Linked DNA regions of Homo sapiens. The protein of the gene in region 2 purifies or fractionates together with the protein of the main gene of each other region. This does not show direct contact. Each region holds a gene or a part of one and is shown on either strand. Other genes may lie near its edges.

Region 1 (3,500 bases), on a different chromosome or scaffold from region 2:
TGATGACGATGATAGTGATGGTGATGGTGGTGGTGGTGATGATGATGGTGATAATGACAGTGATGACAGTGATGATGAATGGTGATGATGACGGTGATGGTGACGATGGTGACAATGATGATAATGACGATGATGGTGATGATGACAGTGATGGTGAATGGTGATGACAGCAATGATGGTGGTGATGGTGATGATGATGGGGATGGGGATGATAGTGATGATGATGATGATGATGGTGATGGAGAAAGGTGATGATGACAGTGATAATGATGGTGATGGTGATGGCAATGGTGGTGATGGTGATGATGATGACAGTGATGGTGATGATGATGAGGATGGGGATGACAGTGATGATGGTGATGGTGGTGGTGATGATGATGGTGATAATGACAGTGATGATAGTGACGGTGAATGGTGATGATGACAGTAATGATGATGGTGATGGTGATGATGGTGATAATGATGATAGTGATGATGATGGTGATGACGACATTGATGGTGAATGGTGATGATGACAGCAATGACGGTGGTGATGGTGATGATGATGGGGATGAGGATGATATGATGATGATGATGATGATATGATGATGATGATGATGGTGATGGAGAAAGGTGATGATGACAGTGATAATGGTGGTGATGGTGATGGTAATGATAGTGATGATGATGGTGATGACAGTGATGATGGATGTTGATGATGACAGTGATGATGATGGTGATGGTGATGATGGTGGGGATGATAGTGATGATGATGATGGTGATGGAGAATGGTGATGATGGTGAGGATGATAGTGATGATGGTGATGGAGAATGGTGATAATGATGGTGGTGATGGTGGGGATGATAGTGATGACGATGATGATGACAGTGATGATGAATGGTGACGATAACAGTGATGATGGCGATGGTGATGATGGTGGTGGTGATGGTGATGACAGTGATGATGATGGTGATGATGACAGTGATGATGAATGGTGATGAATGGAATGATGATGATGATAGCGACAGCAATGATGATGGTAATGATGATGATGGGGATGGGGATGATAGTGATGATGATGATGATGGTGATGGAGAAAAGTGATGATGTCAGTGATAATGATGGTGAGGTGATGGATATGATAGTGATAATGATAATGGTGATAATGGTTTTGGGGAGCCAGCAACTGGCCCAGCACAAACCACAGGGGGAAGGAGCTACAGGCCACAGTGAGCCCTTTACACTGCTTGGCGATCCCTGGCCCCAAAACCTGGAATTCCTTACCTGTGCTCTACATCTTCTCCCCCCACTCCCATCCACACTGTGAAAATAATTCTCAAATGCATAACCTTTCACCTTACAATGAGCTCTGAGAATAATCAGCCAGGCCGTATTGTTTTTAGATAAGGTAACAGCATATCACCAAGAACATGTGCTCATAAAAGCAGCAATTCTTTATCCCTGGATGTCTTCAGAAAGAAGAGGGGAAAGCACCTCCTAAGAAATAAGAATAAATTGTACCTGCCAGCATTCCAGCATGAAGGCAAGCAGGGCCTTAGCACCTGCCAGAGCCCTGCGTCTACCTTTACTCGCTGGGAAGAAAGACACAGAGAAGCCACGGCAGCCACATCTCATGTCCCACCCCTGGAGGCTAAGCCCCTGCCAGGCATCCAGGCTGCATCACCAGCACGGGCTCCAAACTGCATGACTGAAGAGTTTCTAATAAAGCACACCTCAACCACTGCTGAGGGATTGGGGGGCGGGGGGACAACCAGTTCTGCCACCCATGGCCCTATCTCAGCCCCTGAAGCTGGGGGCTTTTCTGGACCTCCTACATCCCACACTCATTCTGCCAGGAGTGTCTCCAGCCACACACAGTAAATACGGAAAACTGCATGATGTTAAAAATGATTTTTTTTCAACATAGGTGATCGATTTCGAGAGGTTCTCACTTCTCTCCAAAAATTGATTACAGGGCAGCAAATAGAAAAGATGGGAGTGAAAGGGAGGAGTTGGGGCTGTCATCAATTCTGCTTTCTGGAAACGTCTGTTAAATGCACAGAAAGAAGGCAGAGAGCTGAGCATTTTGCTGCTAGAGAAAAAGAGCGCTGCAGTCGATACACACTGCTGTACAGAACCGCAATTCTGCAAGTGTGCCCAGCAGTCCTCCTCCGGCCTGCCAGCACGAACACTCCCAGACCCGATCCATGCTCTGCACACACTCACAGAGGGAGGGGACCACCAGCTCCGGGCCTCGTTATGCCTGAGGAACAACCTGCAGCTCTCTCTGTGCAACCCCCACCACCAAGCTCAGGGTCTCTGTAGGTGCATCAGGGACCCTGACAGATGCTTCTCAGAAGGCATGAGGCTAGGACAATCCAAAATGGCAGCTCCCCAAACTCCAAGCAGTAACCAGCACTGGCTGCCTTCCGGAAGCCTCCACACGCACAGCAGTCACAGACTCCAGCATCAAATCCCTTGCTACGACAGCCTGGATCAAAACATGCCTCATAAGCCCGAATTTGAAAAGGAATTCTGTACTCAGTGGCAGAGGAGGCACTAGATCCAAGAATGCTTAAAGAGTAATGGCAGCCACCACCACTTATTCCACACGTGACCAGCCAGACTCACCTAGGTACTCACATCTGCGTCCCCATCTACGTCTGAGCTGCGCCTAGAACCCCTTTCTGCACATGACCAAACAGACTCAGAGAACATCACCAGCCAGTAAACAGAGCAAAGACTACAGTTCAAACCCAGTCTGCCACATCTGCAGACCTGGGTTTGAATTGTAGTTCCTGTCAATATCTGAGCTCAGCCTAAAACCCCTTTCTGCACCTGAGCAAACAGATTCAGAGACCATCACCAGCCAATAAACAACAGAGCAAAGACTACAATTCAAACCCCAGTGTCCCTGATCTTTCCAAGGTATTTTGCAAATGAGGTTCTAATACTCCGATTCAAGAATGTCTTGGTTCTTTCCACCATGATTTCTTTCATGGTTTCTGTCCACCATGAGAGTTCTCTACAACCATGGGAGAGAACGGTCATTTGTGATCTACCTGGCGTACAATGGGTATACAATTTCTGTGTCTTGGTTTGTGCATCTGTCAAATGGCATCTCATCCTCTGCTCTCTTCCTCAAAGAGTGAAAATGATCCAAGGTGAGAAATGCATCAGAAATGCACCAAGCCACCCAAGGCCACAGCACCACTGCATTCAACGCCCTCCCCCAGCCCCTTCTATTTACCAGGAGACCTCTCTACACACACACATTGCTTGAACCATCTCTACCTGTTCAGTTGTGGACTAGGTAGGTACTGGGGCAACACTGTGTGAACATGTGTCACACAGCACTCATGCCCTAGAAGGAGCTTCCATGGCTTAGGAAGGGATGACAAGACTCGTACAGGAAAATCTGAACACCAGCCCAGGCAAGGCCATAAAAGGGCATATCATTACTACCAAAACAAGGGCGGAAGAGAAAGTGACCTCGTTTAATTCTTGATCCTTCTACTTT
Region 2 (3,500 bases):
AGCGTCTCCTTGGTATAATTATAGTGTTCCTGGACCTTGTTGGGGTTCAGGTACTCCGAGTACAAGCTGCCCATGGTGGGGCTCAGAGGCCTGCTGGGGCCATGGGGCTTTCAGAACTGCAGAGAAGACAGACAGACAGACAGACAATAGGTCAGAGCTGTGGCTGCTACCTGGGCTCTGGCCTCGGATGGGCTGAGATTCAATTTCCTGCTCTGTTACTCTTCGAGGAAGGGCCACATGAATTCAGAATCATCATCATCCCCACTTACAGACGGGAAACCCAGAGAGATTAATTCACTTTCCTAAAGTCTCAAATTTAACCAGCGGCAGGGCCAGAGAGACTGGCTCTGCGGCCTCTATAAGCCCTAGGCTACGCTCTTTCTTATTTATTTTATTTATCTATATTTTAAAGACAAGGTCTTGCTCTGTCATTCAGGCTGGAGTGCAGTGGCGCAATCATAGCTCCCTGCAGCCTTGAACTCCTGGGCTCAAGTGATCCTCCCACCTCAGCCTCCCACCTCAGCTTCAGCTACAAGCACATGCCACCACGCCTGGCTAATTTTTTTTTTTTTTTTTTTTTTTTGAGATGGAGTCTCCCTCTGTTGCCAAGGCTGGAGTGCTGCGGCACGGTCTTGGCTCACTGCAACCTCCTCCTCCTGGGTTCAAGTGATTCTCCTGCCTCAGCTTCCTGAGTAGCTGGGATTACGGGCACCTGCCACCAGGCCCAGCTAATTTTTTTTTTATTTTTAGTAGAGACAGGGTTTCACCATGTTGGCCAGCATGGTCTCGAACTTCTGACCTCATGATCCGCCTGCCTCGGCCTCTCAAAGCGCTGGGATTACCAGTGTGAGCCACCGGGCCCAGCCGCCTGGCTAGTTTTTTTGTTTTTTAGAGATTGGGTCTCACTGTGTTGTCCAGGCTGGTCCTGAACTCCTGGCTTCAAGCAATTCTCCTCGGCCTCTCAAAGCAATGAGATTACAGGTATGAACCATGACATCTTGCCTCTTTTAATTTTCATTATTATTTTCTAGAGATAGGGTCTTGCTCTGTCACCCAGGCTGGAGTGCAGTGGCATGATCATAGCTCACAGTTGTCTCTACTCCTGGGCTCAAGTGATCCTCCTGCCTCAGTCTCCTGAGTAGCTACACGCTTTCAAAGGGAAAGAAGCTCCCCCAAATGGCATGAAAAATATAATGTGGACTTCCAGAAACCTTGCCCACCTACCCAGAGAGCAAGCCCTAGGCAGGTCCTGGAGGGTTTGTCTCTTTTCTGGAACACACAGGCGCCTGCGCCCTCATGCTGACCTGGGTCAGGGAGAGTCTCACCACTGATAGCTCCGTGCCCTGCTCATTCATTACCACCCACTAACGCTGGATTTCAGGCTGGGTCTAAGCCTTGAGGCCACGGGTGCTCCCAAGATAAGGTCTTGGGGAGACACCAGGGCGGCCCTGAGATTCAAACATCCCAGAGGTCACACCATCTTCAAGGACACAGACCTTGAAGGCAATCCAGAATTTGCTCCCATTCCACCTCTGAAACACTGGGCAAGTCCCTAGACGCTGTCTCAGCCTGAACCTCCTTATCTGTGCAATAGAGAGAAGAAAGCCCACTTCATGGGGGTGATGGGAAAATCCTTTTAAATGACGCATGAGGCACGTTTAGCTCATAGTAAGCACTCAACAAATACTGCCAAATGTTATTAGCTCCCCTCTTTCCTCCAGTCCTTTGGGAAGGGAAGGGATGTAAGCCAACCAGACGAGATCTCCAACAGCCTGTTCTCATCAGCACCATCTAGCTCTGCCCTGGGACAGAAGGTCCTGCCGGGATGGGCAGGGCGCTGGCACCCCCTCCCCAGCCAGGATGAAATCCAGATGTGAGGCCCCTGGAACAAACAGGGTGGAGTCCTCACTCTGCAGTCACATCCGGTGTGAGGAAGGCGGGATGTAGGGGGAGTCAGGATGGGAGAGACCCCATCTGGGAGGTCCTGGCTGGGAGGATGGGGCAGCTTTGCTGAAGTCATGTGAGCCGTGAAGGGGTGTGCAGCCCCGCCGGGAGGGGGTAAGGCATTTGTTCCATGAAAACCTGAGTCACCCCCCCAACCCCCTCCCATCCCTCCCCTCCACCCTCTTCCATCCCTCCCTCTACCCCCTCCCATCCCCCCCCATCGCCACCCACCAAGGAAAACTGAGCCGTGGTGGGAGGGGGCGGGGAGAGGCGCTCCTCGGCAGAGAGGATGAGAGGCAGACACCATGGCCTTCCCCCAGCTTGGGGGTAGGGTTAGGGGTTGTCAGAGGCGCCAGTGCAGTGTATGCCTTTCATGAAGGGAGAGGAAGTTCCAGCCTTAGCTAAATGGGAGGGAGGGGGGAGAGTAGGGGGAGTCCTCCTCAGGTCCCTAGAAACACGTCTGGCAAGGACTGTGTGCACCGTTCCAGAAAAGTCTGGTTAGGCCAGTTCTCCTGAGCCCAGGAGTGATGGAGGTTTCCGGAGTCACCCAGCCATCTCAGTCCCTGGCCGCCCCCTCCAAGGGGCATCCTGGCCCCTGGCTGGATAGAGGCAGCTGCTCCCCCAGGGCGGAGGGACATCCGTCCTAGTTTGGGAACAGACAAGGGCTTGTGCACGTCCCCGGGGACTGCTGCCCCTCCCAGATAGCCACACAGAGGCCCCTTGTTCCCTTGCTGGACGCAGCCCCGGGCATCTTGATGCCCTCTGCACGCTGCAGCCAGTCCCAGGCAGGCTTGGGCCCAGGCTGCGGCTGGATCAGACACAGCTGATGGGCCGGAAACAGCCCATGCTCTGATTGGCTCATTTTCAATCCAAGGGCACTGAGCAATTTGCCTATTGGCCCGGGCTTTCCATCTTCTGCCTCTGATTGGTCCAGTTGGGGGCGCTCTACGGCCAGCCCTACCGATGGGGTCCTTTATAGGCGACGGGAGCTCAGGCTTTCTGAGGATAGAGTTAATGCTATGTGGACGTCCCTAGGGGGAGTTTGAACCGCAGCCTGACCTCTGGGTCACCCCGACCAGACACCCCCAGGCTGCCCTGGCCTGCTGGGCCCCTCCTGGGGTTCATAAGTGAGAATCAAGGTCCCTTTCCAGGCCTGGGGAGCACGCTGTGCAGTGCAGCCGCCCCCTCTGCTGCTCACCAAGAGATTTGCTGTGGCTTCCTGGATAAATAAGAAATGTGTTTAGGCCGGGCGCAGTGGCTCATGCCTGTAATCCCAGCACTCTGGGAAGCCGAGGCGGGCCTATCACCTGAGATCATGAGTTCAAGACCAGCCTGGCCAACATGGTAAAACCCCCCTCTACTCAAAAAAAAAAAAAAAAAAAAAAAATTAGCCGGGCATGGTGGTGTGCGCCTGTGATCCCAGCTACTTGGGAGACTGAAGCAGGAGAATCGCTTGAACCCGGGAGGCAGAGGTTGCAGTGAGCCAAGATCGCAGCCATTGCACTCCAGCCTGGGTGACAGAGCGAGACTGTCTCAAAACAAAACAAAACAAAACA

Evidence for each region. The genes of interacting proteins can lie anywhere in the genome.
Region 1: the proteins of S1PR2 (region 2) and HPCAL1 purify together in Homo sapiens (affinity purification with mass spectrometry; 2 studies listed by BioGRID and IntAct, with this or other methods). This does not show direct contact.

The regions. Positions count from the first base shown.
Region 1 is NC_000002.12:10,309,404-10,312,903, reverse strand, and holds part of HPCAL1 (hippocalcin-like protein 1), read right to left. Parts: intron 1,202-3,500; exon of another isoform or gene 1-1,201. UniProt on the Homo sapiens protein: May be involved in the calcium-dependent regulation of rhodopsin phosphorylation.
Region 2 is NC_000019.10:10,224,832-10,228,331, forward strand, and holds part of S1PR2 (sphingosine 1-phosphate receptor 2), read right to left. Parts: intron 117-3,500; 5' UTR 75-116; coding exon 1-74. UniProt on the Homo sapiens protein: Receptor for the lysosphingolipid sphingosine 1-phosphate (S1P). S1P is a bioactive lysophospholipid that elicits diverse physiological effects on most types of cells and tissues.